4 linked regions of the Homo sapiens genome follow. The protein of the gene in region 1 binds, or shares a complex with, the protein of each later gene. Each region holds a gene or a part of one and is shown on either strand. Other genes may lie near its edges.

Region 1 (7,284 bases):
CGCAACCTCCACCTCCCGGGTTCAAGCGATTCTTCTGCCTCAGCCTCCCAAGTAGCTGGGACTACAGGCATATGACACTACGCCCGGCTAATTTTGTATTTTTAGTAGAGACGGAGTTTCACCATGTTGGTCAGGCTGGTCTCAAACTCCTGACCTCAGGTGATCCACCCACCTCAGCCTCCCAAAGTGCTGGGATTACAGTGTGGGTCACCATGCCCGGCTGGCGGTTCTTTTTTTTAAAAAAAAAAAAAAAAAAAAAAAAAAAAAGAGGGAAAGAAACAACTAAATTAGCGTTTTCTGGTCCTTCCAAGCATAAGAAAAGGCAGCATCCCAGGCCACATTCTGGGAGGTGCAGTATTCCCTCTCTGGCTGGGGTGCGGAGCCTGGTTCTTCCCAGGAGGCTGTGATTATGGAGTAGTTCTTTCTTCCCCAGGTGCGGATAGATTTCCTAAACCGACAGTGGACATCTTCCCTTGTCCTGGGAGTCATCACCTGCGCGCCTGAGAGGCTCAACTTCCCTGCTTCTGCCTGTGCCCTCAAACGGGCAGCCTGGCTGCTGCGGGGCCGTGGGGTCTTCCACAACGGTCTCAAGGTGAGTAGGAGCCAGAGAGAAGGAACAGGACCAGGCCTGTGAGTAGAGAAGGGCTGGCCAGAAGGGAGAAGTGGGCCCCTAGCCTTGGAGGTAGGACCACAGGTGTAAAAGGGGAACAGTAATGGGCAGGCAAGGGCGAGTAGCATTGCCTGGTCAGTCTTAGGCCTGCTGCTTCCTGCGGTGTCCCTGCCATTGAGAATGTGCCAGTTTTGGGGAAGGGGAGGGGCTCTAGGTAACTGCAGTGGGAGGAGAACCTCGGCAGTGGGCAAGCATGGAGGCAAAGCCAAGGCACTGGCAAAAGGAAGCAGAGCAAAGGGCGGGACAGCTGCCGCGGTGGAGTCTGACCTCTGGAAGACAGCCGGTCTCTCCTCCCAGATCTGCGAGAAGTTTGGGCCCAATCTGGACACGTGCCCTGAAGGCACCATCCTGGGACTGCGGCTGGACAGCTCTGGGGGGCTGCATCTTCATGTTAATGGGGTGGACCAGGGGGTAGCTGTGCCAGATGTGCCCCAGCCCTGCCATGCGCTTGTGGACCTCTATGGGCAGTGTGAGCAGGTTAGTGGCAGTGGGGGCAGGGAGGAGGGGTGCCTGAGAGTCTGCGCTGTCCAGGACAGGGGAAATCTCTGTTCCAGGGAGGGATCAGCAGGCCCTGGGGTCTGACCAAGCTCTGTCTGACTACCCTCTCCCCTGCAGGTGACAATCGTGAACCCTGAGCCAGGGGCTGCCAGTGGGAAAAGTGCTGGAACCCAAGGGGACATGGAGAAAGCAGACATGGTGGACGGTGTGCCAGCCCAAAGGGACCCAGCTCCTGCCCCTACTCCCCCACCCTCACCCTTCTAGCCCAGCTCCTGTGACCTGTGCCCCTCTGCTCCCTCAGGTATCAAAGAGAGTGTGTGCTGGGGTCCACCACCTGCCGCTAGTCCTCTAAAGAGCTGCGAGTACCATGCCCTTTGCTCTCGCTTCCAAGAACTCCTGCTGCTTCCCGGTGAGTCCCACAGTCCGCCAGAACTGACTTCATTCCCAGGGCCAGGCCTAGAGCCTTGGAGAGCAGCTGGAGGGTGCCACTGTGGTTGAGGTGGGAGCCACAGCACCAAGCCTGCTACTCACTGTCCCGCAGAAGATTATTTCATGCCTCCGCCAAAGCGAAGCCTGTGCTACTGTGAGTCTTGCCGGAAGCTGCGAGGAGACGAGGCCCACAGGCGCAGAGGGGAGCCTCCCCGGGAATATGCACTGCCCTTTGGCTGGTGCAGGTTCAACCTCAGGTACATATGGGCAAGGTCATGCCTTTCCCCTACTGTTTTCCCCCTGGAGAAACGGGGATCCCAAGAGGGTGCATGGAAGAAGTAATAGAACTTCCTGTCTAAGGAAAAGCCAGGAAGTGCCAGGGACTTCCTGTCTAAGGAAGAGCCTCGTGAAGCTCCTCCACTGGGGAGTCAGTGGCCTTCGTTGTATCTGCCCCGCTTGTCCACCTCCTAGAGTGAATCCCCGCCTGGAGGCTGGGACACTAACCAAGAAGTGGCACATGGCATATCACGGGAGCAATGTTGCCGCTGTACGGAGAGTGCTGGACCGAGGGGAGCTGGGAGCAGGTACTGGCGAGTAGGCCCATGCAAGGTGGGCTGAGCCTGGGGGGCTGTGGAGGAATAAAAAGGGCTATCCTGACCCAGTTCTCCTCCCAGGTACTGCCTCCATCCTGAGCTGCCGTCCTTTGAAGGGAGAACCTGGGGTAGGGTTCGAGGAGCCTGGCGAGAACTGTGCACCTCCTCGGGAGGAGCAGCCCCCTCCTGTGCTGCTTTCCCCCTCCCTTCAATATGCTGGGGCGGAGACCCTGGCCTCCAAAGTGCAGTGAGTACTGGGAGGGGTGGGGAGAGATTTCCAGGGGCTCGGATGGAGAGGGCCCAAGCGCAGCCACTGGGGTCTTCATGATTCGCCCTCCCCTTTTCTCATCTCGTCTTGCTAGCTGCCAGTCTCCAACTCAGCCCTTTCTTCATTCATTGAACAAATACTACTTATATACTCTTCTAGTGGGCAAAAAAAGGAACCTTGCTCTTGTGGAACTTCTGCCTTTTCTCTCTACAATGTTCATACGTAATAAGTATTATTTATTTATTTATTTTTATTTTTATTTTTTTTGAGACGGAGTCCTGCTCTGTCACCCAGGCTGGAGTGCAGTGGCGTGATCTCACTGCAACCTCCACCTCCTGGGTTCAAGCGATTCTCCTGCCTCAGCCTCCTGAGTAGCTGGGACTACAGGCACGCACCACCAAGCCCGGATAATTTTTGTATTTTTAGTAGAGACGGGGTTTCGCCATGTTGGCCAGGATGGTCTCGATCTCCTGACCTCGTGATCCGCCCACCTCGGCCTCCCAAAGGGCTGGGACAGGCGTGAGCCACCGCGCCCCGCCAGTATTTAGTATTTTTAAAGGTAATAAGTAAGGACTATGGAAACAGAGAAAGAATGGGGCGGAGACAGCAGTGCGGTTGGTGTGGACATCCTAAGAAGGTGGGAGAGATTCGAGCAAAGGCTTGAAGAAGGAAGTGAAGGGTGTAGCTGAGCAGGCTTTGGGAGGAAGAGCATTTCAGGTAGAACAGCTAGAGCGAAGTTCCCATAAGGTGGGAGTATTTCCTAGGTACAGCAAGGCTTGTGTGGTTGGAACAGACTTTGCAAGGGGGAGGTGATGGGGCGAGAGGCTTCACTCCCTTATTTTTTCTTGTCTGACAGATTCCGGGACCCCAAATCCCAGCGGACGCACCAGGCTCAGGTGGCGTTCCAGGTGTGTGTGCGCCCTGGCTCCTACACCCCGGGACCCCCTTCCGCTGCCCTTGGAGAACCTCCTGACCCTCACTTCAGTCCAGCCGAACTTGAGTGGGTCACTAAGGAGAAGGGGGCCACACTCCTCTGTGCCCTGCTGGTACGGGTGGAATGAGGGGTGAGACACCACTACTACAAGCACAGTCGGGCCGCGGGCCCATGGACTCTGAGTGGCGACTGCCTCCACCTCATTCCCGTGACTCGTGGCATGCGCAGGTGCTGGAGCTTGGCAGCCGCGCAGGAGCATGTAGGCAGGCTCTCAGATGTAGGTGGCAAGTGGCACAGCTCCATGTCCGGAGGCCCAGCACTCCGTCTGATGGGAGGAGTCGTGGGAGCCCAGCTCCAGGCCCTGGTACCCCTCTTCATGCACTGATTTGGGGAACATGACTCCCTTTTACTCCCCTACCCCACATCACTTAATTTATTTCCGTTTTTGTTTCTGGTTACTGTGAATCCCAGAGGAGTCTCTCCCTGTGCCCACATGAAGCTGCTTTTTCCGGGGCCACCGGGCGGGAGTGGGGAAGGGTGGGCGCACGGAAGATGGGGGCCTCTGTACAGTTGTTACTGACTCTGATTTCTAAGGAGCCAATAAACACCGTCTCAGAGCCTCCGCCTCGGCCTCTCTCTCGCGCGCCCCTCTCCGGAGCCCGCGTCCCCTGGGGTGCCACCAGGTGGGCCCGCGAAATTAAAGAGAGCTGAGGATGCCAAGGCCAGTCTGCAGCCGTCGTCGCTCACGTTCCCGGCGACGGGGTTTGTACGCCGCGGGCACCCGTCGCAGCGCGCTTCCGCCTTCTTTCACCTGTGAGGTCGGCCGCCGCCGTGACTCCGGAAGGACTCGGCCGGGCCGCCGGATGTGACGCAGGGGCCAGGGCGCGTCGGAGCCGCTGAGAAAGCGCAGAGAAGGCGGGTAGGAAGGGCAGTCGTCCGCGCTGGCTGGGCAGGGAGCGGCAGCAGCGAGCCGGGGACCCCGGCGCCGCCCGCGCGCGGTGGGACTGGGGCTGCGGTCCCGGCCGGGTGGCGGGCTCCTGGGACACGTGACCGGGGCGGCGAGCGGGCCGGGCGGACGGGCTTCCGCCTGGGCCGGGCGCGGCCCCCTCTGAGCGCCCGCCTCCCCGCAGGCCCCGTCTGAGGTCTGGCAGTCAGAGACAGCCGGGCGCCCACGGCCCGAGCGCCCACGGCAGCACCATGCCCGCACTCCTGGAGCGCCCCAAGCTTTCCAACGCCATGGCCAGGGCGCTGCACCGGCACATTATGATGGAGCGGGAGCGCAAGCGGCAGGGTGAGCCGGGGCCATAGCAGGGGGACGCACGGCCCAGAATGGCTCCTGTACCTCAAGGCTGGCCTCAACCCACCGGCCAACCAGCGCGCCCGCTGCCGAGCGCAGAGGAGGGAAGGAATAGCCCCGTTGTGGTGGGATTTAAGCGTCCTGTTCCACGCTCCAGAACCCTTGAGATGGGAAGGACCTTGGAGAGCACCTGATAAAGCCTTTCCGTTCCCTATTGCCGCGATGGGGAGCTTGTCCCCTCGAGGCAAAGAGCATACAGGCGTGTTGGGATGACTGGGTTTTGCTGGTCTTCAATCTGTAACGTTGGAATTGTTTTCACTACCCTGCCTCTTCTTCATTCTGCCTGATTCTCCAGAGGAAGAAGAGGTGGATAAGATGATGGAACAGAAGATGAAGGAAGAACAGGAGAGAAGGAAGAAAAAGGAGATGGAAGAGAGAATGTCATTAGAGGAGACCAAGGAACAAGTAAGCAGTCCCTTGAACTTTCCCAGCTTTGATTTCTTCGTTTGACTCTCCCTGCCTTCATCTTCTTTTCCCACCCCATCCCAGATTCTGAAGTTGGAGGAGAAGCTTTTGGCTCTACAGGAAGAGAAGCACCAGCTTTTCCTGCAGCTCAAGAAAGTTTTACATGAGGAAGAAAAACGGAGGCGAAAGGAACAGAGGTGGGATCAGAGTGCTAAAAACTGAAATGGGGGCCAAGTGGAACTGGGATCAGGTAGTAAAAGAACCAGTGTTTAATGGCAAAAGAGAAGGCATCTGTCCTTGACTTTGACCTGTCTTCCTTTCACTCCAGTGACCTGACCACCCTAACATCAGCTGCATACCAGCAGAGCCTGACTGTTCACACAGGAACTCATCTCCTCAGCATGCAGGGTGAGGACTAAAGAAACCACCAGATGGAACCGGCCTTCTTGGAGGTCACAGCCTCCCATTTCAGCATCATGAAGCCCTTCTCCCTTTCTAGGGAGCCCTGGAGGACACAATCGCCCAGGCACCCTCATGGCAGCTGACAGAGCCAAACAAATGTTTGGACCCCAAGTGCTTACGGTGAGAGTAGGATTGGATGCCTAGCCCCTAGTACTTCCATCCATGCATCCTTGCCACCAGTATTCAAGTCACAAACATATCAAGCACTTAAGTTTAGGGGGAAACGGGGCATACAGATACACACAAGTCACTGGGTTTCAGCTTTCAAGGAGTTTGTAGGCGAGTTCTCATTCTCCTTCCTTAGACCCGGCACTACGTGGGCTCAGCAGCTGCTTTTGCAGGGACACCAGAGCATGGACAATTCCAAGGCAGTCCTGGTGGTGCCTATGGGACTGCTCAGCCCCCACCTCACTATGGGCCCACACAGCCAGCTTATAGTCCTAGTCAGCAGCTCAGAGGTGAGTAATAGGAGGGATGGGGCTTGGCCTTCCTCAAGGTCAAAGGAGGAATGCCATTCAGTAAAAGATTTTAATGGCTCTGTCTTTTCCTTTCTCAGCTCCTTCGGCATTCCCTGCAGTGCAGTACCTATCTCAGCCACAGCCACAGCCCTATGCTGTGCATGGCCACTTTCAGCCCACTCAGACAGGTGATAACATCCCATGCAGGAGCTCTAGCTCTCAGGTCCTCCCCTCCCTGTTTCATTCTCATCTCACATGCCCCTCTTCCCCACCTAGGTTTCCTCCAGCCTGGTGGTGCCCTGTCCTTGCAAAAGCAGATGGAACATGCTAACCAGCAGACTGGCTTCTCCGACTCAGTGAGTATGGCACCTTGGGAGGTCAGGGTTAGGGATATGTTAAGGGGAGCTTCAGTATGCCTCAGGCCCTGACTCTGTTCTCTGCAGTCCTCTCTGCGCCCCATGCACCCCCAGGCTCTGCATCCAGCCCCTGGACTCCTTGCTTCCCCCCAGCTCCCTGTGCAGATGCAGCCAGCAGGAAAGGTAAGAATGGTAATAGAATTTACCTGTCAGAATCCCTACACTAGGGATCCGGAAAAGCAGGATTAGGTAGGACAGGTGGCCCACATCATCTGGTTTTTCCTTCCTCTTTGGGGGTGGTTATCAGTAGGGTATTAAGTGGAAGGGAGAGTATGCCCAGTGACAAAGCCCTCTTTTCATCACCACCACCAGTCGGGCTTTGCAGCTACCAGCCAACCTGGCCCTCGGCTCCCCTTCATCCAACACAGCCAGAACCCGCGATTCTACCACAAGTGACCATCAGATTATATCTTCAACACCACACCCCCCACCCCATCGTGGGTGAGGGTATCCCCTGTGTGTCCCAGGCCAATAAAATCTACCTGCCACTGCCCCTGGCTGCTGCTGTTTGTGTTGCCTCCCACCCAACTGTCTGGAATAGGTCAAGGTTGCTTGGAGGGTGGGGGGATGGCTGGCAGGTCCACAGCAAGTCAAAGTGATAGACAGCGGGTTCCAGTGAACTCAGTGGCAGAGTTCAGTCTTTTTGTGGCTTCCAAATACACCCATTTAATTCAAATAAGCAGCTGAGTTGGGGGCTTCATATTAAACTTGTAGTTTTATTCAGGTTTGATTTTAACAAATGTGTCGGGGAGAGAGCCCGCAGGGAAGGGTAAAGCCCATGGGGGCAGGGCCCT
Region 2 (7,021 bases), on another chromosome or scaffold:
GCCCAGCTTTGCCTCTTGCTGGCTGCGTGACCTTGCAAATTTACTCAACCTCTCTGGGCTCCTGCCTCCTTATCTGTAAAAAGAGGACAAGACTATCTAGCTACAATGCGATGGTGAAGATTCCATGAGTGAATGCACACTAAGAGTCTAATTGGGGACCCGCCACATGTCAAATGATTCCAAGACAGCTTTTTACATTTTAACATCTCTGAAACTGGGATGCAACTTACAGTTTCTGTTGCTTTTTCTTTCTTAATGGATTCTAAAATAAGGGTACATCTCACAACAGATAAGCCCTGCCTTGAATGAAATACCGCAGTAGCTTAGATTCTTTACTTCCCTTGCAAAGAGGCTGAAACGCCTGTGAGATGGGATCAAAGACCAAGAACACAAATCGTTAAGGGACAAGGGTCTATTGAGGCCTAGCATTCACCCTGGATCTCCAGAGCTTCACGGAATTTGAAGGCTCAGGCCCTTCCCCGGCCTGGCGCCCCTCTGGATCTGTCTCAGCTGTCCTAGTCTTGCTCAGAAAGCGGCCCAAACTTCAGCAGGACCCTCACCTCTGCCTCCAACCCTCTGTTGCTACTGATGTGGTAGGTTCCACAGTTGGACAGTTTGGTCACAATGCTACTGTGCTTGCAGCCACCCAAAACCCCAAGTCTTTGTCCCAAGAAAAGAGTCCTAGTTCCCACCTTCAGAAACCCCCACAGACATCTCCTCCAGTGTGACTCCATCAAGCCATCCTTGGACTCTGCTCCCAACTGTTCCGAAGGCCAGCACTGGGGATGTCATCCAGGCCTTACCAAAGTCCTTATGCTGTGAGTGCTGACTTCATCCCTGCAGCCTGCTGATGTCAGACCGGCCTGAGTATTTTATTATCTAAATATCATTATAACTTGTATTGCATACATAGTTGGCCCTCTGTATCTGTGGGTCCTGCATCTGTAGATTCAACCAACCTCAGATGGAAAATATTCGAAAAAATTAAGGAAAAATAACAATACAACAATTAAAAAATACAAATTTAAAAATACAGTACAATGGGCCAGGCATGGTGGCTTGCACCTGTAATCCCAGTATTTTGGGAGGCTGAGGCGGGCAGATTACTTGAGATCAAGAGTTCGAGACCAGCCTGGCCAACATAGCGAAACCCCATCTCTACTAAAAATGTAAAAAATTAGCTGGGTGTGGTAGTGCATGCCTGTGATCCCAGCTACTTGGGAGGCTGAGGCACAAGAATCACTTGAACCCGGGAGGCGGAGTTTGCAGTGAGCTGAGATTGTGCCACTACACTCCAGCCTGGGTGACACAGCAAGACTCTGTCTTAAAAATATGTATATACAGTATAATAACTAGTTACATAGCATTTACATTGTGTTAGGCATTGTAAGTGATCTATAGATGACTTAAAGTATACAGGAGGGTGTGTGTAGGTTACATGTAAACACTATACTATTTTATATCAGGGATTTGAATATCCACAGATTTTGATATCCTTGGGTGTCCTGGAAGCTGAATATTTAGGAATGACTGCACACATATCACCAAAATCTTTACAGAAATAAATTATCTATCAAGTATAAAATTATTTTATTTTATTTTTTTTTTTAATAGAGGCAATGTCTTACTTTGTTGCCCAGGCTGGTCTCAAACTCCTGGCTTCCCAAAGTGCTGGGATTACCAGGAGGAGCCACCATGCCCAGCCAAAACATTTTAAATGTAGAAAAGACCAAAGAAAACAAAATTCTACCACCTAGTGATAATTAGCTTGATGTCTGTCTGAATATTTTGCTATGTCTGCATGCTAGGGAAAGATTCTTTTCTCATATCCAAACCCAAACAGTCTCATTCCACACATACTACTCTTTCTCTTACCGTGACATGGTGGCCCTCTCTCTAAACAGACTGGTTTCTTCATGGCGGCCCCACAGTGCTCCCGTCCTCTATCCCTATCCCTGGCAGGTCCCAGGCCTCTACAGGGACGTAGTGCTTTGGGTCTGACGTTGTTCCTCCTCATCCTCAGAGTGGGGCTGTGATCTGTGATGGGGCCATGGCTGCCTTCGGGGACCCCACCAAACAAAGCCACACCCAGGCACAGAAATACTCCAGAGCACTTAAATCAAGGGGTGTGTGGTTAATGGCGGCTGTCTGTCTCTGTCCGATTTGATTGTAGCCCTTTCAAAACCAACTGAAAGTTCTCCCAGCCCCAGATGCTGGCCTGATATTTCCCTAACCCCTAGGGGCTCCAGAAATCACAATGAATAATGAATAGGTAGGTGCCTGGCATTTTGTAGTTCATAAAGCGCCTCCTTACTTTTATCCAATTTAGAGCCTTACAACAAGCTTATACATTAGGCAGAACAGGTATTTATTATCCTCATTTTATAAATGAAGAAACTGACGCTTAGAGAAGTGGAGTGACTGACCCAATATCTTCCCTTATTTTTCTACCCTTCATAGTCTGGCCGTCTCCAAATCACACTAACAACCCAGCTCAGGCATCAGCTCCTCTAGGGAGCCTTCCATGACCCCCCACTTCCACCCCAGGCTGGGTTAGGTGCCCTCCTGGAGGCCCCACAGCTCCTGGGCTTCCCTATGATAACTGTAGTGCCCCTGCCAGGCCATGGGCCCTCACGGCTGTGATGGGTCTAGCTTGTCTGCATTCACACTCCCCAAGCATTAGAAAAACATCAATAGGTGGTTGCTGGGGTGAAGATCATTACAATGACTAAGGCAGGAATTATTCTTCCCCTTTTACAGATGAGGACACTGAGTCATAAAGAAGGGTCAAGACTTGCCTAAGGAGCATATCAGCAGCGGGGTCAGCTCTCCTTCTTCAGAGGCCTGGGTTCTTTTGCTCCACTGCATCCCTTGTTGTCCGCAATCTTAGACTCCAAACCATTGCTGGAGGCTCGTATCTGATTTCTCAGGCAGGTCTACCTGGTCAGCCAGGTGTGAAAGGGAGGTTGGCAGGAGGGGGCTCTGTCTGCAGTGGGCTCAATTCCCCAGCCTGGGCCAACACCGTGGTGCAGCCTTAGGAACAGCCACAGGAGTTGCCCAGTTATTGAGCACGCCATAGACCACGCCCTGTGCAAGAACTTCCCTTGCACTTCTTACTTCATCCTGTGGCTGGGGCCGTTATGATGCCATTTTGCAGGTGGGCCAGGAGAGACCCTGGCCCAAGGCCACTCAGTGTCTGAGATGGGGCTAGAAGCCAGGGCTGCATCCCTGGCAGCAGGCAGCCCCAGGAGTTTGCTGGCACCAGAGCCAGAAATAAATGCACAGTCAGAGTACAGGAGACAACTCTCAGGGGACCTGCAGTGTGGGCAAAGCCCCAAACTCACCTCCCACCCAGGGCTGGCTAGAGGGACAAGACTCTTGGGCCCAGGGAACACACGCCTGCCCCTGCACTGCCTGTGGGCAGGGTCATGCCATTTGCCAGGGCCCCTACAAACTCCAGGCTCAAGGCCAGGCTAGAAGCAGCTGTCATATCAACCCTGCACAAATGCTCAGCTCCCGATTTCTTATTTGAATGAGACTTCACCTATCTGCTCCTGACTGGCTGACAGATGCTGAGCAAGGCCCCATCTCTTATTGGGCCTTACTTTACCTATCTGTGAAATGATGCCAGGAGAGGGGTGGCTGGCGGGGGGAGGGGCTAGGTTTGGGGGATGGTATCTTAATGGAACCCACCAACTCTGACATTCCAGGGATGGACTACAGGCAGCAGGGGAAGGTGATTAAGCCCTGGACACTGGTGGCAGATGACATAGATTGAATGTATGATCCTGGGCTAGCTACCCAACTTCCCTGGGGCTCAGTGTTGTCATCTATAAAATGGGAATGATAGTACAAAAAAGACTGAAAGTAAATGTTCATATTGATTATGTGGGATGAGAAGAGGAGAAGATATGGGTAATTTATTTTGTCTGTTTTCCTGCCTTTTTCTGAAATTCTCCATTATCAAGTGTTTATAATTTTAAAAATGTATTTTCTTTGTAAATTAACTTCATGAGATATCATTTACATATAATATATCCATTTTAAAACGGGAGAAATAATAACAAACAGTATGTACCCTATAGGTTGTTATGGGGATTGGGTTAACGTATATAAAATATTAGATGGTGGTAAGAAGTGCTAATAAGTGTTTGTTAAATATATAAGCCCAGGGTCAGCCTGGCTTCCTCCTCATCCTCCTCCTGCTCACCTGGCCTGGACCCCAACCTCTCCCCTAGCACTGAGCTCACTGCCCAGGTCCCACAGCAGCACTCCAGGCCTGGACTATTTCTACAGCCATCTCTCTGCACCTGTCTTCGTCCGTTGCTGCAGCTACAACAAAATATCATAAATTGGGTGCTTTGGCCAGGCGCGGTGGCTCACGCCTGTAATCCCAGCACTTTGGGAGGCTGAGGGGGGCAGATCATGAGGTCAGGAGATTGAGGCCATCCTGGCTAACACTGTGAAACCCCGTCTCTACTGAAAACACAAAAACAAAATTAGCCGGGCGTGGTGGTGGGCGCCTGTAGTCCCAGCTACTGGGGAGGCTGAGGCAGGGGAATAGCATGAACCCGGGAGGTGGAGCTTGCAGTGAGCCGAGATCGTGCTGCTGCACTCCACCCTGGGCGACAGAGCAAGACTCCATCTCAAAAAAAAAAAAAAAAAAAAAAAAAAATTAGCCAGGCATGATGGCGGATACCTATAATCCCAGCTACTCAGGAGGCTGAGATGGGAGAATCACTTGAACCCGGGAGACGGTGGCTGCAGTGAGCCAAGATCACACCACTGCACTCCAGCCTAGGCGGCTGGGCGAAACTCCATCTCAAAAAAAAAAAAAAAAAATGTAGGTGCTTTATCAACAATAGAAATGTATTTCTCACAGTTCAGGAGGATGGAAGTCCAAGACTAAGACAGCAGATTTGGAGTCTGGTGAGGGCCCACTTCCTGGGTCATAGAATGGCGCCTTCTTACTGTGTCCTCATGTGGTGGAGGAGGTGAGGGTCTCTCTGGGGCCTCTTTTATAAGAACACTAATCCCATTATGAGGGCTCTGCCTTCCTGACCTAATTCCCTCTCAAAAGCCCCACCTCTTAATACCATCACCTTATGGGGTAAGATTTCAACATATGAGCTTTGGAGGAACATAAATATTCAGACCATAGCAATCTCGCAGGAATCACACCAATATTCAAATCTGGCCATGTTCCTACCCAATTCAAAAGCCTTCCATGGCTCCCCGCTGACCCTGGCTGAAAGTCCTAGATTCTCCATGAGACACAGTTTCAATAAGCCATGTAACTTTTCTGTATTTTTGTTTTCTTAATTGGAAAAGCGGGATAAAAAGAGTAGCTCCGTCATACACTCGCAGGATTCCATTATGAGCATGGTGGGGTACACAGTCTAGCCCAGGGCCTGCCTGCTCCTCTCTTCCTCTTCTCCCGCCATCACTCTGTCCCAGCTCGTGCTTCTCTGAACATGCCAGGCATGGTCCTGCCTCAGGGCTTTTGCCCCAGCTGTTCCCTCCACCTGAATGGCTGTTTCCCCAGAAATGAGCCTGACTCACCCCTCTCCTTCAAGCCTTTGCCTAAAAATCACCTTCTCAATGAGGCCCCCAGCCCACCCTAGTTAAAACTGCCCCCTCACACACCCTAACCCCTCCTATGTTCTATTTGCTCCACCTCATTTATCACTGATTTTATTTATCACCTATTCATCTATTTTATTTATTGTTTTTCATCTGTCTTCCCCCCATCTGATTGTAAGCTCTTTGGGGGAAGATCTTTCTGGTCTATTTTGTTTAATATCAGCGCCTTCCCCCTTTCCCCAGCACTTAGAAAATACCTAGTACAGGTCAGGTGTGTTGGCTCACATCTGTAATCCCAGCACTTTGGGAGGCCGAGACAAGCGGATCATTTGAGGTCAGGAGTTCGAGTCCAGCCTGGCCAACATGGCGAAACACCGTCTCTACTGAAAATACAAAAACTAGCTGGTGTGGTGGCACGCACCTGTAATCCCAGCTACTCAGGAGGCTGAGGCATGAGAATCACTTGAACCCAGGAGGCAGAGGCGGAGGTTGCCGTGAGCCGGGATCATGCCACTGCACTTCAGCCTGGGAGACAGAGCGAGACTCTGTCTCAGAAAACAACAACAACAACAAAAAACAACAACAAAAACAAAACAAAAGAAACAAACAAAAAAACTAGTACAATGTAGGTGCTTAATAAATACTGGCTGAATGACTAATGGAATGAATGAACATAAAGCACTTAGGACAGAATTAGGCAGGCGGTAAACCCTCAATGAATGTTAGCTATTATTATTACTGTTAGTGATTCTTCAAAGTGAGGCTCCCATGTCCCTCCTCCTTGACTTCTGCAAGCTCATAATCACACCTTCCTTGTCCCCACCACACCCTGCCAATCTCTCAATTATAGTAAGGAGCACACCGCTCTTTAAATACCTGTATATCTTTTTCCATTTAGGCTGAACCAAATGAAATTGCCATTTCTTGTAAGTCAAAAAAAGTCACATACTGGCCGTTTCATGTGGTTTAACCTAGTAAGTTTCCCATAGCAGCCTGCAGACCCCCAGGAGGCACAGTTTGACCACAGAAGCAAAGTCACCTACTCCTGGCCCTTTAGACCAGGTGTGATTGCAAAGCACGTCCAATCTGTTCTGAAGGAGGCAAGGCATGGATTATAGACTTAAAACACAAGAAGATTCTGCTGAATTATTTTCTGGACCTCCTGAGATTTGGCAGAGAAGATAAAAACACACCAACTTCTAAAACGATCCAGCTTCTGGCCATTTTGAAATAGCAAAGGTTTAAGGCTGAAACCCCTCGGTGGGGAGCTAGCTACCTGCCTCTAAGGGGATTCATTTAATGAATCTCCTTCCAATCTCGGCTTTGCTACTGAGATTTGTTCACTCTAAGAGGTTGGCTGTCAGAGCTCAAACAAATTCAGCAACTGCTGAGTCTACCCCCATTTCACAGATGGAGAAAGTGAGGTCCAGAGAGGGGA
Region 3 (7,021 bases), on another chromosome or scaffold:
ATGAGCAAATGGCCACTCTTTTTTTTTTTTTTTTTTTTTTTGAGACAGAGTCTCACTCTGTAGCCCAGGCTGGAGTGCAGTGGTGCAGTCTTGGCTCACTGCAACCTCTGCCTCCTGGGTTCAAGCGATTCTCATGCCTCAGACTCCCGAGTAGCTGGGATTACAGGCGCCTGCCACCATGCCTGGCTAATTTTTGTATGTTTAGTAGAGATGGGGTTTCACTATGTTGGTCAGGCTGGTTTTGAACTCCTGACCTCAGGTGATCCACCAGCCTCAGCCTCCAAAAGTGCTGGGATTACAGACGTGAGCCATCGCACCCAGCTGAGCAAGTGGCCACTCTTACTTCATCTATACTCCCTCATGTTAGATTGTTTTAAAGCAGATCCTAGATGTTATATCCTTTTATCCATAAATATTTTATTATGTATCTCTAAATGATACTCTTTTAAAAAAACATAGTATCATTATCAAACCTAAAAAGTTAACAGTGATTCCTTAATGTCATCAAATATGGGATCAATATTCAAATTTCTGCAGTTGTCTCATAATTATTTTGTAGCTAATTTAAATCCAGATCTAAACAAGGTCTATACAGTGCATTTGGTTGATATGTCTCTTAAGACTTTTAATTTGTAGCTTTTCTGTCACCCCCTTGAATTTATTTCTTGAAGAAACCAGGTTGTTGATCCTGTAGAATTTCTTATGATAGCTACCATTTACTGAGTGCTTACTCTGCTAGGTATTATGCCAAGGGTTGCTGGTAAATCCACTTAATTCTCATACCAATCCTTAGATGTATTATAATAGACCTTTTTCTGATGTTATATATAAGTAAATTGAGGTTTGGGAATATCTAGGTAACTTAGCCGTAGTCACATAACTGGTCATTGGAGGGGGCATGATCCAGATCCCGGGTTTTTAAACCACTAATCTGTTTTCCTGAAAGATCTTAATGACAGAAGCAGCCAGGGCTGTAGGATAGAGGCCAACTCATTAGGCTGGCATTGGCACCTTTCCAACTTTATCCCTACACCTCAGCTGCACAGGATGCCTTCCTGGAATGCCCTTAGTTCTCTATTCAACCTCTTCAAGGCCTTCTCAGCCTTCACACCATCTCCATGAAACCTTTCTTGACCACACCAGCCCATAGAGCTCTGTCTTGCACACACTGCACTGCTCATTTGGTGTTCAGTCACATGCTGTTTGGGGAGGTTTCTTGTTTTTTTGTTAGTATTCCTGCTGTTATTTCTGAGCTCACTTTCTAGCTCTGTGAATACAGGGTCAGCCCTTACGCCACACTGGGGTCCCGTAGATGCTCTTTGTGCGATTAGGGAATGCTAATTAGAATACTATCTCTGGGCTATTTATGCTGCATCAGTCTTCCTGTCAAACAAGTTACAGTTGTGCTTATCTGTATTTCCGATGAGAATCAGGAATTTTTCTTCTGTTTAATGAATTTCTGATTGGTTTCAAAGTATTCTAACATAAGTAGCCAAATTGTACTATAGGCCTTTAAATGAAAAAAATAAAAAAGTAGTCCCAAGCCGGGCGCAGTGGCTCACGCCTGTAATCCCAGCACTTTCGGAGGCCGAGGCGGGTGGACCACCTAAGGTCAGGAGTTCAAGACCAGCCTGGCCAACATGGTGAAACCCCATCTCTACTAAAAATACAAAAATTAGTCATGTGTGGTGGCACGTGCCTGTAGTCCCAGCTACTCCAGGAGGCTGAGGCAGGAGAATTGCTTGAACCCGGGAGTTGGAGGTTGCAGTGACCTGAGATTGCACCACTGCACTCCAGCCTGGGCAACAGAGTGAGACTCTGTCTTAAAAAAAAAAAAAAAAAAAAATTCCAGACCTCTCCTTTTCACCCATAAATCCCTCTGCCCAGTGACAGCCACTTTCAGCTCCTTTCCCCTATGTCTTCTGGTATTTACCTTTGGATTTCTAAATAATAATATTAATTGACTGTTATTACTAATCTGTAATCCTTAGGTAATACCTGTTATATACTAGGTACTGTTCTAAGTGCTTTACAGCCATTAGCTTATTTAATCTCAACAACCCCTATGAAGCAGGGTCTATTATTGTTTCCTTTTACCGATGAGGACACTTAAGCACAGAAAGGTTAAACAGTTTGTACAACCTCACTATCATTAGTAGGTGTTAAAGAACCTAGGTAGTCTAGCTCCAGAATCGGTGCTTGTAATCATACTCCCCTCCTGTATTGTCTCTCATTGCTATTTCTTCGTCTGTCAATTTTAGGCATTATCTGTTAAGCTTTTAGTATGGGATATGAGCATTTAGTCTTCTTACACCATCACATTGGCTTCCTTTCCCCTTTCAGCTTCATAGTAATTTAAAAATAAATCAGTATTCTGTGTTTACATTATTATAACTCTGAAAGATTCATTTACTATCAAGCCAAATAGTGTAGTGTGATTTAATCTATTTTCTTCTAAAGCTTTTTGTTTTTCCTGGAGCTGACAATTGCATTATTTTTTCATTTGCTTAGTTTTCTGGTATTAATCACTAATTCTTTCCAAGCCTTTTGAGAAACTATAAAACCCTACAATTCTTGCTTGAACCCGGGAGGCGGAGGCTGCAGTGAGCCGAGATCGCACCATTGCACCCCAGCCTGGGCGACAGAGCAAGACCCCATCTCAAAAAACAAACAAACAAAAAACCCCTACAGTTCTGTTTTTCACATGGTCAAATGTATCAGCTGCACTATTTTTTTTTTTTGAGACCTAAAACTAGGGATTGCCTAAGCCTTTCCTTTTTAAAAAGTCAGGTTTATATAGGTATAACTTGCATACAGTAAAATTAACCTTTTTTAGGTGTAAGAGTTCTGAGAGGTTTGATAGAATATATCAAGGTATAGGGCCAGCGCCGATGGCTCACACCTGTAGTCCCAACAATTTGGGAGGCCAAGGCGGGAGGATCACTTAGGCCCAGGAGTTTGAGACCAGCTTGGGCAACATAGTGAGACCCTGTCTCTACAAAAAAAAAAAAAAAAAAGGTATCAAGGTACAGGAAATTTCCACTACCCAACAAAGGTCACTCACCCTTTTGTAGTTAATAACTTCTCTGCAACCTAGATCCAGCCAACTACTGATAAGATGTCTGTCCTTGTATTTTACCTTTTCCAGAATGTTACATAAATGGAGTCATACAGTAAGTAGGCTTTTGTGTCTGGCTTCAAGCCTTTACTTTTTATAAAGAATAACAATGGTAATAATTATAGCTGACATTTATTAAAGGCTGAGCGGATACTGTATACTGTGCTACAGGCTTTTCGTGGGTTATCTCATCACTGTTTCACATATGTAGGTATACAGTTCTTTCTTTAAAATATGTGACTGAAAAATATTATTGAACATTATGCTAAAATTTGTTACACTGAGAAGACTAAGAAAAACAGAGCTCATGTTTTCTTTCAACTGATTTCCTTTTTACATTGTACTTGAGTACCTGGAAGCTGCTTGCTTCTTTCCGCAGCTAGGATACAAACTCCCTGACAGTTAAGTGCTTCTTTACTTCCCATCCAGTGCCTTGCACAGGGCTTGGTACATGGTTTGGTCCAAAATATTTGTTGAATAAATTTGCAGATAGCCCACGTGTGTAGGAGAGGGAGAGAAGGTTCTTGAAAAATGGAGATTGGAGGAATCTAGGATGGGGAGGGAGATATGGGAAGGGCCCAGACAGAGGCAGGAGGGTTCCAACTTGTTCCTCTTCCCTGCAGCCCAGTGTTTCCCGGGCTCTTTGAGTTCTGCTCGCGTTACACAGGCGCATCTCTGCAAGGAGCAACCCAGCTGAACAACAAGGTGACATAGTCCCGAGTCCTGTTCTTCCTTTCCTCTGGATCCCTGGACTCGGGATTTAACCCTGATCCTGGGCTCCCAGCTTGAGGGGTGGGCAGGAAGGACTGTGACTTAGGTGTTTGTCTTTCAGATCTGTGATATTGCCATTAACTGGGCTGGTGGTCTGCACCATGCCAAGAAGTTTGAGGTGAGTGAGGAGGTGATGGGAAAGACAGTGGCCATCCTAGGGTAGGTGTTTAGGATGATGGTGGGGGGCAGCTGGGAGGGGAATTGCTCTTCTCTTTATGAGACCACTGTCTTGCCATAGGCCTCTGGCTTCTGCTATGTCAACGACATTGTGATTGGCATCCTGGAGCTGCTCAAGTAAGTAGCCCAGGAGGAGATGGGGGCAGTTACGGGATTCTTGGCTGAGGAGGTCTCTCAGTCTCAACCCTGACCTTGACCTCCCTCCTCCCTGATTAGCTTCTCCCAAGTTCTTGATGCTTTATTCAGGCTGCCTCTTCCACTGCTGCAGATTCCCTACTGCCTGCTCACATTTCAGCCTTCTCTGCATATCCCTCTCCTGTCCCTGCCTCTAGCCTCTAGGCTGGAGCCCCCAGTTGCCTTTAGGGAACTGGTGACATTAAGTTTCAGGTGACCAGGGCAGAAGCAGACTCTTCACAATTCGAGACCCGGTGTTTGAGAGGAGTGGGTTGGGGGGTTCACTTCTAGCTCAGACCCTGGCTTTGGCTTCCCTCTAGGTACCACCCTCGGGTGCTCTACATTGACATTGACATCCACCATGGTGACGGGGTTCAAGAAGCTTTCTACCTCACTGACCGGGTCATGACGGTGTCCTTCCACAAATACGGAAATTACTTCTTCCCTGGCACAGGTATGGGAATAGGGATTACTTTCCCCTTTGCACCCTTCAGCTCTTTACTATGAGTGCCTCCTTCTCAGCCTTCTAGTCTCATCTCAGGTGTCCCCTCCTCAGAGAAGCCTTTCCTTACCACTCCAGTTATCATAATCACCTCCTTCCCCATTCCTCTGTTACATCAGCCTCATTGTTTCCCTCAGAACACTCACTGCTATTTGTGTTTATTGTGGTTTTTTGTTTTGTTTTGTTTACTGCCTCCCTCCTCCTCATGGCTATTCCCTAAGAATATAAGCGTGGTGGGATATCGTAAATTTCATTAGTTCCATTCGTTGCTGCATCCCTACTGCCTAGTACACAGTTGGCTCAGAGTGGATCCCCCAAAACTATTTGCCCAATGAATGCAAGCTGCAAGAGATTTAGTGGCTCTAGGGAGTTTATGGTGAAGCTACATAGATGGAATGAGAGGCTCCCAGAGTGCAGATTGGGGCTGAAACAGCTGGGTTGTGGGTGCTTCCCATGTGTGGCTACCACCACCCACTTCCCTACAGGTGACATGTATGAAGTCGGGGCAGAGAGTGGCCGCTACTACTGTCTGAACGTGCCCCTGCGGGATGGCATTGATGACCAGAGTAAGTACCGAAGTCTTCCCTCTGTTCCCTAGGCCCCTTCTTTTTCTCCTTGAAATAACCTCTTCTGCCTGGTATTGTCTGCTGTTGGGCCAGTTGTCCTTAAGGATGAATGGCCTTCAGAGGGACCATGAATCTCTGGAAATTGTATGCAACATATCATGTGTATGTGCATTTTTCTGGGAAAAGTCATTGGCTTTCATCAGTCACTCATAGCAGTCTGGGATCCCTTCCAGAAGTTTCAGACCAGTGATTTGATTCTTTTGGGTGGCCCCTTTCCTGGGCTACATGCTCGCTCAACCCCCTTTTTCCTTTTGTTCCCTGTCTCCCCATCCCCTTGGGGTGCCAGGTGCCCATCTTTGGCCCTCTCCCAGGTTACAAGCACCTTTTCCAGCCGGTTATCAACCAGGTAGTGGACTTCTACCAACCCACGTGCATTGTGCTCCAGGTAATACTGTCAGTTCCTCCTCAGGAGTGTTCTGCCTGGGCTTGGGGAAAGAGAGCAAGGGAAGAGGAGGTTCTTTAGGTTGGTGGTGGAAGGGGTATCTGTGATGTTCTGATCAGTTCTGATCACTGCACTTTCCTGGGGTTTTGCTTTTTGCAGTGTGGAGCTGACTCTCTGGGCTGTGATCGATTGGGCTGCTTTAACCTCAGCATCCGAGGGCATGGGTGAGACTTGCTCTCCTTCTTCTCCCCAAGGTTTTTAAGTGGCCTTGGACTTCAGTACGTGGGTGGGGGTAGTTGGGGAATGGGCCTCACCTCTTCTTGGAAATCAAAAATAGCTACAAATTGTACTTGAACTAGAAATGTCATCTTGAACAGGGTTCCCTAGATGGTCATTCATTCACGATATATTTTTATTAAGCACCTGTTATGTTCCAGGCATCATACCACATCATGGGGATGGAATAAGGAGTCTCCCATGGAGTTTACAGTTTAGGAAACAGACAAAAAATAAATAATCAAATGAAATAAATAGATTCTTATAAATTCTGTGAAAGAAAAAAAGAAAGCTGAGACACAGGATACAATGGGGGACCTACTTGAGATAGCATGGTTTCGGAAAGTTTTTCTGAGGAAGTAAAATTTGAGTTGAGACCTGGAGACTAAGAAGGAGTGAGTCATAAGAGGAGCAGAGAGAAGCCTGACCCAAGCATGGACAAAGGCCCACAAAAGGCTCTGAGGGCTGGGCCCAGTGGCACACACCTATAATCCCAACACTTCCAGAGGCCAAGGTGGGAGAATCGCCTGAGGCTAGGAGTTTGAGGCCAGCCTGGGCAACATAGTGAGAGCCATCTCTACAGAAAATAAAAAACAAAATCAGCTGGGCATGATGGTGCATGCCTATAGTCCTAGCTACTCAGGAAGCTGAGGCAGGAGGATCACTTGAGCCTAGGAGTTTGAGGTTACAGTGAACTATGATTGTGCCACTGGACTTCAGTCTGTTGAGGTGAGGTCCGAGAAGCTGGCCATGGTGAGATTGTGCAGAGCCTTTAAACCCTGGTAAGGAGTTTGAATTATATTCCAAAGATGATGGGAAACCATTGAAGGATTTTAAGCAGGAAAGTGACATGATCCAATTTGTGTTTGAAAGTGACAATTCTGACTGCTGAATAGAGAAAGGTTTGGGTAGGGGGGATGGAGATGGAAGTAGAAAGACCAGTTAGGAAGCCATGGTGTTGGTTAGGTGCCCAGACTAAGGTGGAGGGGGTGGCA
Region 4 (7,811 bases), on another chromosome or scaffold:
CCAACAAATTATTTCAACCAACTTCATCAAAATGTGTCAAGTCAGGAATTCTTTATAATAGTACTGCTACAAGTTGTACTAGGGAGATTCCTTTGTCAGCTACTCGTCTGACAAGGTTGTATATATACTGCACTGATAGATTTAATCAACAAGTTGATGTTCAAAAGGTCTATTAATACATTTCCTTTTATCAGTACCCCTTATATTTATATTACCTTCTGTTAGCTTGAAAGGCTCCTAGAACACAGGAAGCAGTTACCTCTAATTCTTTCGGGAGACTGGTGTCATGGTAATCATGCAAAACCTTTAATTAGGTGTCGAGAATACAAATATCAAAAAGATTCTTAGACATACGTATTAAAATGCTTAACACTTCTTTGAAGCAACCAATGCAAAAATATCATCTCTGCAAGGGGTCACTCCATTTACCACCAGTGTCTCCCACATTAATACCCAAAGCTGGTATACGTTAAAAGAAAAATGTCATAAACTGACGGTGAGCTTTGCAACAATTTTTATGCCATTAACATGTCACTTTATTAAGTTCCTTAGCAATAAGAAAAACTTTTCCCAGGCACGTAGTTTTCGTCCCCCATACAGTTTAGTATTTTGTCCTGTAGGTCGGATTCCAACAACTCAAACGTCAAAAAAAATAGTAGTTATTTATGAATTTAATGATTGCGATTACATACATCTCAGTGCAGGATAGGGTTGAAAAAAAAAATCATATTCCAAACAAGAAAACCTGGATTTAAGAGCAAGAAGCCTAATCACACATCACACGCCTAACTGCTCTCAGGCATACTTTCTTCCTGCAGCCCCTCCCCCACAGGTAAATGCTAACTATTTCTAGAACTCTCAACTATTTGGGAAGCTTGCCATCAACTCCCATGATACCACCCAACCCACACCATGTTTTCGGGGAGACAAAGGTGCCCTACTTCCCCAGACTATAAACTATTAAAATGGTGAGAACATACAATCCCAGGAAGTCGGCATTACTAAAATACATCAATGTAGCATGGGTCTTATTTTAACAAAAATGAAAATGAATCACACTGGAAAACCCAAACAGTCACTCATTGTATCTTCAACGTGTAATCGAAATTATTTATTCCAAGTTATTTCAGGTAAGTAGATGAACACACCACGAGGGCCTTATTATCCAAACTGGTGAAGAAGCCTTTAGGAAAAACGGAGGGGGAAGATCACTTAATTATATGAGGTGGGGGGTAGAGCAACCATTCAGTCTTAAAATTCAAACTAAAAATAACCTGGCATTTTCACCCCCCACATTTTATTAACAAGCTTGTTTAGATCAGCATACGGTTCCTGTTTGGAAAACAAGAAAGTGAATAGTAAACTTTCCTAAGTCAACTGTAAATCACATAGGTACTAAAACTCTTCACCCCTGGTGCCTGCACAGTCCAAGATTTCAAGTAAACTCCAGACACTGAGAACACCTAATTTTTAACTAGTTTCCAACATTTCTCATTTGTAATCACCAAATTATCTTAGAGACACTTAGATAACCTAACAAAGAGAGCATTTTTTAAAAGCCACAACCCAAATTTTACATGAAATACACCATTTTCACAACCTAAATTTAATCCCGGTTGCCACTGCGAAGTGATGCCTGTTTCAGCAAATTAAGAACTTCCAAAAATACTGAACACGTTAACACATGCATGGCTTCCCTCGAGCTGCCATTTAAGATTAATATTCCACTTAAATAAAAGTCTGCTTCTGTTCAAAAAATTAAATCGGTTGCAAAGAGGAAGTTACCGAGAAACCACCCTCACAACGTGGCCTTTACACTGTCAGAAAATAACGTGACTCTGTGCCACCCAAAACTTACCAGGAAGCTGGCAATAACTTTGCCAATTCTACACTCCTGAACCCAACTTCAAAGAGCCTCCACCAAATACCTCCTTAAGACGATAAAAAGCACTAAGTTACAAATAAACACGTCCCGGAGCAAGGCCCGGCTGCCGCGCGCCCCTCCCCCGGCCGGCGCCCCCGCCCCGGACGCGCGGCCCCAACAGCCGCCCGCAGCCCCCAGCACGCCGGCCGGGGTCGCCGCGCCCGGGCCGGGGACGCGCCCGGGGAGGGGAGATTTCCATTGCCGCCCGAGGTTTCACAAAATAGCATGCACCGAAAAGCTCCTTCTCCTCTGCTAAAAATAGGCTATAAAGGAGTCGGCCTCATGATGGCTCCTTGATTCAATTTGCTGCAAATCCTTTCCTGAAAGCCTCCCCCCCCAAACACACACGCACAAAAAGGGGGTGTAAATGCACGAAGGGAGGAAGAGGGGGAGAAGGCCGAGGTGCACATTTTCGGGGACAACATAATTAGGGTGAGGATCCCCCGAGACCGGGAAAGGGTAGGGGGGTGGGCAGGCACGTGAGCATTTCAAAGAAACCTGAGAGAGGAAAACGGGGGGATGGGGGCGCCCCAAGTGCCCTCCCTGCCTTCCCTTCCCCCACGCAAGCCCAGTTCCCCCAAGGGCCAAGTTGAAAAATGCATGTTCCACTCGCGCCCATCCCCCCGCGGCCCAGCGCCCCCGGCCGCCTCTGGCCCGCGCCCCCCGCCCAGGCCCCCGGCCGCCCCCACTCCAGGGTCCGGCCCCCAGCGCTTACCTGGAAACGGTGGCCTCCAACGCCGCTCCCCCCTCCCGGGAATGGAGGCACAAGGAAATTCCCCTCCTCGCCGCCGCCGCCACCGCCTCCAACCACCCCCAAAATAACCCCTCCGGGGGGTGAGAGGCAATTATAACCCCAGCGAGCGGAGGGCGCGGGGGATGGGCGCCGGGCGGGCGGGGGCGGGGAGCGCGGCGCGGGTCCCCAGGTGGCGAGCGGAGGTGCTCCCGCCGCGGGGGGAGGGGCGGGGGCGCACGCGGCCGGCGGCGGGGGGAGGCGGCGCGCGGGGGAAGGGCGCGAGCGGGGAGAGGAATTGAGGCAGAAGGTAAAAGCTGTTACTAAGGGAAAGAGCCAAACGGTTCGGAGCAGCCAACGGCTCAGACACTCAACACTGGGGAGAGAGGAATGGGGACCAGCCAGGCACAAATGAGCTCGCGAGGCCCGCGGCGGCGGCGGCGGCGGCGGCCGCGCAGCAAAACAAACCCGAGCGGCCTGCGCCGGGCGGGCGGGCGAGCGGGCGGGCGGGCGCGCGGGGGAGGGGCCGGCGGGGGAGGGGCGCCGCGGACGCCGGGAGGCGGCGGCGGCGCGGCGGGGGGGCTCCAGCGGCCGCGCTCCTCTCCTTCCCGGCCCGCTCTGGCGGCACTGGGGGCTGGGCTGTGCGGCGCATTCTTTTAAAAATCAGGCGAGCCCCGCGGGCACTCGAAGGCGCCTCGGGGCCCCGGGCCGCCCGCCCCGCCCCCACCGCCGCGGGCCGGCCTGGGTGTGCTCGGGTGTGGGCCGCTGGGCCCGAGACGGGTGGGGGCGGGGAGGCCCGCGCGGTGGCCGGGGTGGAGCCGCCGGCGAAGTTTCCCCAAGGACGCCGCGGGCTCCCGCGTGTCCGGGGGGCGGCCCGGCGGCGTTGGGGGCTGGGCGCACACGCGGCGGGCATGTGGGGGAGTGCGGCGCGGCATCATATGGACATTTGTTTGTGAAAATCTCTGTGAACACCTTTGTGTGCGTAAATACATATGGTTCTCCGAAGCGTACCTGGAAAGGTGCTTTATCTGTAATAAGCGACTTTCAAAATGTGATCCAGAGCACGGGATCTGGAGAGAAAACACGCACACAAGAAAAGGTTTTTGATACTAAACACAAAGCTGTAATTGAAGTATTTATGCCCAAATGTACTGTGAATCAAGCATATGGTGGTATTTATCATCTGGTGGGTCTGTTTGAAAGGTTTGCTCGATCAGTTCTTATTTCACAAAAATAAAATAATGTAACTAAATGTTTACTAAATATATACCTGCACAGTGGCATCCACAGTAGAAGTTTATCCACTTTGTGTACTTTTTGCATGTGTGAAGCACAGCAAGGCGGTTTATAAAGTATAACTTAGATGAGTGATAATGTGGCAGTATGGTTGAGGGAGGGTTGTTTTTAAAGAAGGGAGGCACCTCACAGGTTTTAAAGCAAATGGGGTGGTAATCTTTCTAAGACTTTCAGAAAGATGGGGTAGGGTGCTTTTTAGAGCTTTGTATAAGCTCAGGACTGGAGAAGCAGCCACCCTTTTACATTAAGATACGACTTGAAACCTTTTTGTTATTTCGCTTATTACTGCCTTCAAAGCAAAATAATGTTTGCAGCTTTCTTAAAGGTGAAGGGTTCTGTTTTCCTACTTTCATCAGAATATTTGAAAATAGATGTAGTGATCACTTTAAAGCAACCATCATTTCCTCTCAATATCAGAAACCTGAAGTTTTGCGACACACACACACACACACACACACACACACACACACACACACTACTCGTAACTTGCACCAGTCTGGACTCCTGGTGGCCTAATAAGTTCAGTAATTAGACAGGTGCTTTCTTGGCCAAGGTCAATGTCTCTTTCCCCCCTGAGCCCTTGCTTGGGGGAGCTGCCAGAGGCCTTTCCTGAATGACCTAGTGGGGCAGGGAGCAGGAAAACCATCAGAGGAAAGGGAGTGGGATTGGAAACTCCCTTCCAACCACCAGAGAGTTCAAAGCATATTAGTGGTGTGTCCTTAGAGCTATTTTCATGTATGAAAGTGGGAATGTTGGATTAAACAATGTCACCCGATGGGAATTTAGATAACTGCAGGTTTCCAAAACACTATGCAGAGTGTACAGGGAAACCGCACAAAGCAAGTTTTGCATTTCAATAGGATTCTAAAGCTGAGGCTTGTTTACCTCAGAACTAACACCTTTCAGAAGACTTTATTTCAGAATTGAAAAGAGTATATAGTATCTTCCTTTTTTTTTTTTTGAGTTGATAAATGACGTAGATATCACTAAACATACCCTGTCTTCAGTAAGTAAACTATCTCGGTGGAGCCACTCAATGAAACATATCTATTGGCTTAGATTATTTTTTAAGTTTCATATTGTGCCACCACGGGCGGGTCCTCTCCATACAGCAGTGACTGTAAAATCAAACCCCACTTTCAGTGAGTGAGGACTTCTCAACCATACCATTCTTAAAGCGTCATATTCAAAGCTGCCCACCCCACCCCTTCTCCTTCCCCTAAATGACTTCTATCCCTTATTCCACAAGGGAGGAGACACCCTCCTTCAGGTTCATAGGATCAGGTCTTCCAGCCTGAAGTTCTTATACCCTACACCAAGCTGCCTCCTAAAGTTGTTCAGTGTTAGTTGAGCCTCCTCACAATGATAATAATCCATGCATTTGTTTATATCCCTGTAGTTTACAAGACATTTCTGTGCGTAAATGACTGCATTTAAATATGAAGATCATCGAGGCTGGGGACTTACAAATCCGTTGCAGTAAAATGTACTTTACTCACCACTGTTGGATCATACTAATTGAAGAGAGAGGAGAGAGCAGGAGTACATTTTTTTTTTTTAGGTGGAGTTTCGCTCTTGTCGCCCAGGCTAGAGTGCAATGGCGGAATGTCGGCTCACTGCAACCTCTGCCTCCCAGGTTCAAGCGATTCTCCTGTCTCAGCCTCCCGAGTAGTTGGGATTACAGGCATGCACCACCACGCCTGGCTAATTTTGTATTTTTAGTAGAGATGGGGTTTCTCCATGTTGGTCAGGCTCGTCTCAAACTCCCGACCTCAAGTCATCTGCCTGCCTCAGCCTCCCAAAGTGTTGGGATTACAGGCGTGAGCCACTGTGCCCGGCAGCCTGGAGTGTTTTTAAACAAACAAACAAAAATAGGGGCACCCAAATGTGGAAAGGCCTTGATTCTTCCAGCAAAGGGGGTTTTAAATCAGATCATATTTTGATCCCTTTGATTTTTATATTCTGGAAACTATCTGAAACAACAGTGTGGCTTCAATGTTAAATACTCAGAGAAATAAACCATCACTCAAAGGTCATATGTATTGTCGCCTCGCCCTCTAGCTGTCCCAACATATCCAGCATAAAGGATCAGGGCTGCACCAAAATACAAGCAATGATTAGACTCACTGGGTGAGGAAAGGACAAAGAAGGAACTATTGTTACTAATATTCAGTACTTTGTCCTAATCTAACACTCCCATTACACTTTGAATTAAATGTTAATGTGTTTCTAGAAAGGAGATATTACTGTATTACTAAGAAATTGTAAAGCAAAGGAACACATTAAGTTCTCCGCTGGGTGTGGTGGTTCACGCCTGTAATCCTAGCATTTTGGGAGGCTGAGGTGGGCAGATCACTTGAGGTCGGGAGTTCAAGACCAGCCTGGCCAACATGGTGAAACCTCGTCTGTACTAAAAATACAAAATATTAGTCGGGCGTGGTGGCGGGTGCCTGTAATCGCAGCTACTTGGGAGGCTGAGGCAGGAGAATCGCTTGAACCCTGGAGGCGGAGGTTGCAGTGAGCCGAGATAGTGCCACTGCACTCCAGCCTAGGCGACAGAGTGAGACTCCGTCTCAAAAAAAAAAAGTTCTCTCTTGAATTTTCTAGCTAATTACTCAATGAAGAGAAACCTCATACCAGTAACTGTTATCAGAAGTTACTATATATTGTAAAATGGCTAAACAAATCCTGACTTGTTTTGCCGGGTGCAGTGGCTCACACCTGTAATCCCAGCACTTTGGGAGGCCGAGGCGGGCGGATCACGAGGTCGGGAGTTCGAGACCAGCCTGACCAACATGGTGAAACCCCGTCTCTACTAAAAATTCAAAAATTAGCTGAGCGTGGTGGCACATGCCTGTAATCCTAGCTACTCAGGAGGCTGAGGCAGAAGAATGGCTTGAAACCGAGAGGGGGAGGTTGCAGTGAGCCGAGATCTTGCCATTGCACTCCAGCCTGGGCGGGTGACAGAGTGAGATTACATCTCAAAAAAAAAAAAAAAAAAAAAACAAATCCTGACTTGTTTTATTTCAGTAATATTTTTCCGAGAGGAGTGTGGCATGGCAAGATAGCCTACACATTTGCAACTTTCATCGCTAAAGACATGGAACATTTTAAATTGAAACTGCTTCAATCCCAGGACTACAGGGTCTCATTACTATATATATTTTTAAATCATCATGATGTTTTAAATTGTTTACATTAGCTCATCTACATAAAGTATTCAAAACAAACTTAATTGTATAAAAAAGACATTTGATACCAAAAATATTCTCCTAGTGCTATAACTCATTTTATATTCTTTACTCACCCTGGAATTCAGTGGCTTTACGTCTGTAGCGTTTACCCCCAGGCGTCTTGCTGATACTCTGTGATGTTTCCGTTTCATTTTGACTTACCTTGTGCAATTCTTTGTGGTTCTTCCGAGATGAGGCACATGCCAACCACACATCTCAAGATGTCAGTACACAAGCTGCTTTTCTCCTTCAGTGCATAGCGTGTTGCTTGTGACCTTTCCTCATCAGTGTGAACCTTGTCACAGTTTTCCATGCTTCTATGACCCAATTTCATTACAACAATAAACTTTACTTGAGAGTCTTCATTTAAATTGCAAAAGAAACATACAACTATCTTACAAGTATTTATGCCTCTCAGATAATGAAAATAGCAGGTTGTATCCTGCGATTGTGATTCAGTCAAAACAGAAAACCAACCACACACACAGCATGTTGCTGTACAATCACTTACTTATACTGACCAGCCACATACTTTCTCAGGGAAGCACTCAAGGCCTAGTATTATATTGATGGTTTTGCTATTCATTCAATGTTTATTGAATGTTTAGTGTGCCAGGCACTGTCTCAG

The links.
Region 2: GPS2 (region 1) and CORO2A share a complex: the UniProt entries of both Homo sapiens proteins name them as parts of the N-Cor repressor complex.
Region 3: GPS2 (region 1) and HDAC3 share a complex: the UniProt entries of both Homo sapiens proteins name them as parts of the N-Cor repressor complex.
Region 4: GPS2 (region 1) and TBL1XR1 share a complex: the UniProt entries of both Homo sapiens proteins name them as parts of the N-Cor repressor complex.

The regions. Positions count from the first base shown.
Region 1 is NC_000017.11:7,312,358-7,319,641, reverse strand, and holds GPS2 (G protein pathway suppressor 2), read left to right. Parts: upstream 1-4,281; 5' UTR 4,282-4,311; intron 4,312-4,522; 5' UTR 4,523-4,589; coding exon 4,590-4,683; intron 4,684-5,044; coding exon 5,045-5,154; intron 5,155-5,238; coding exon 5,239-5,351; intron 5,352-5,482; coding exon 5,483-5,562; intron 5,563-5,653; coding exon 5,654-5,736; intron 5,737-5,920; coding exon 5,921-6,074; intron 6,075-6,172; coding exon 6,173-6,262; intron 6,263-6,350; coding exon 6,351-6,430; intron 6,431-6,517; coding exon 6,518-6,613; intron 6,614-6,802; coding exon 6,803-6,886; 3' UTR 6,887-6,981; downstream 6,982-7,284. Other genes in the region: NEURL4 (neuralized-like protein 4), read left to right, coding at 434-592, 968-1,147, 1,286-1,373, 1,470-1,577, 1,710-1,854, 2,069-2,181, 2,272-2,437, 3,315-3,519. UniProt on the Homo sapiens protein: Key regulator of inflammation, lipid metabolism and mitochondrion homeostasis that acts by inhibiting the activity of the ubiquitin-conjugating enzyme UBE2N/Ubc13, thereby inhibiting 'Lys-63'-linked ubiquitination.
Region 2 is NC_000009.12:98,182,635-98,189,655, forward strand, and holds part of CORO2A (coronin-2A), read right to left. Parts: intron 3,056-7,021; exon of another isoform or gene 2,799-3,055; intron 1-2,798.
Region 3 is NC_000005.10:141,626,846-141,633,866, reverse strand, and holds part of HDAC3 (histone deacetylase 3), read left to right. Parts: intron 1-3,741; coding exon 3,742-3,823; intron 3,824-3,950; coding exon 3,951-4,007; intron 4,008-4,127; coding exon 4,128-4,183; intron 4,184-4,560; coding exon 4,561-4,694; intron 4,695-5,227; coding exon 5,228-5,308; intron 5,309-5,654; exon of another isoform or gene 5,655-5,679; coding exon 5,680-5,753; intron 5,754-5,909; coding exon 5,910-5,974; intron 5,975-7,021. UniProt on the Homo sapiens protein: Histone deacetylase that catalyzes the deacetylation of lysine residues on the N-terminal part of the core histones (H2A, H2B, H3 and H4), and some other non-histone substrates.
Region 4 is NC_000003.12:177,194,482-177,202,292, forward strand, and holds the start of TBL1XR1 (F-box-like/WD repeat-containing protein TBL1XR1), read right to left. Parts: upstream 3,002-7,811; 5' UTR 2,640-3,001; intron 1,998-2,639; exon of another isoform or gene 1,859-1,997; intron 1-1,858. UniProt on the Homo sapiens protein: F-box-like protein involved in the recruitment of the ubiquitin/19S proteasome complex to nuclear receptor-regulated transcription units. Plays an essential role in transcription activation mediated by nuclear receptors.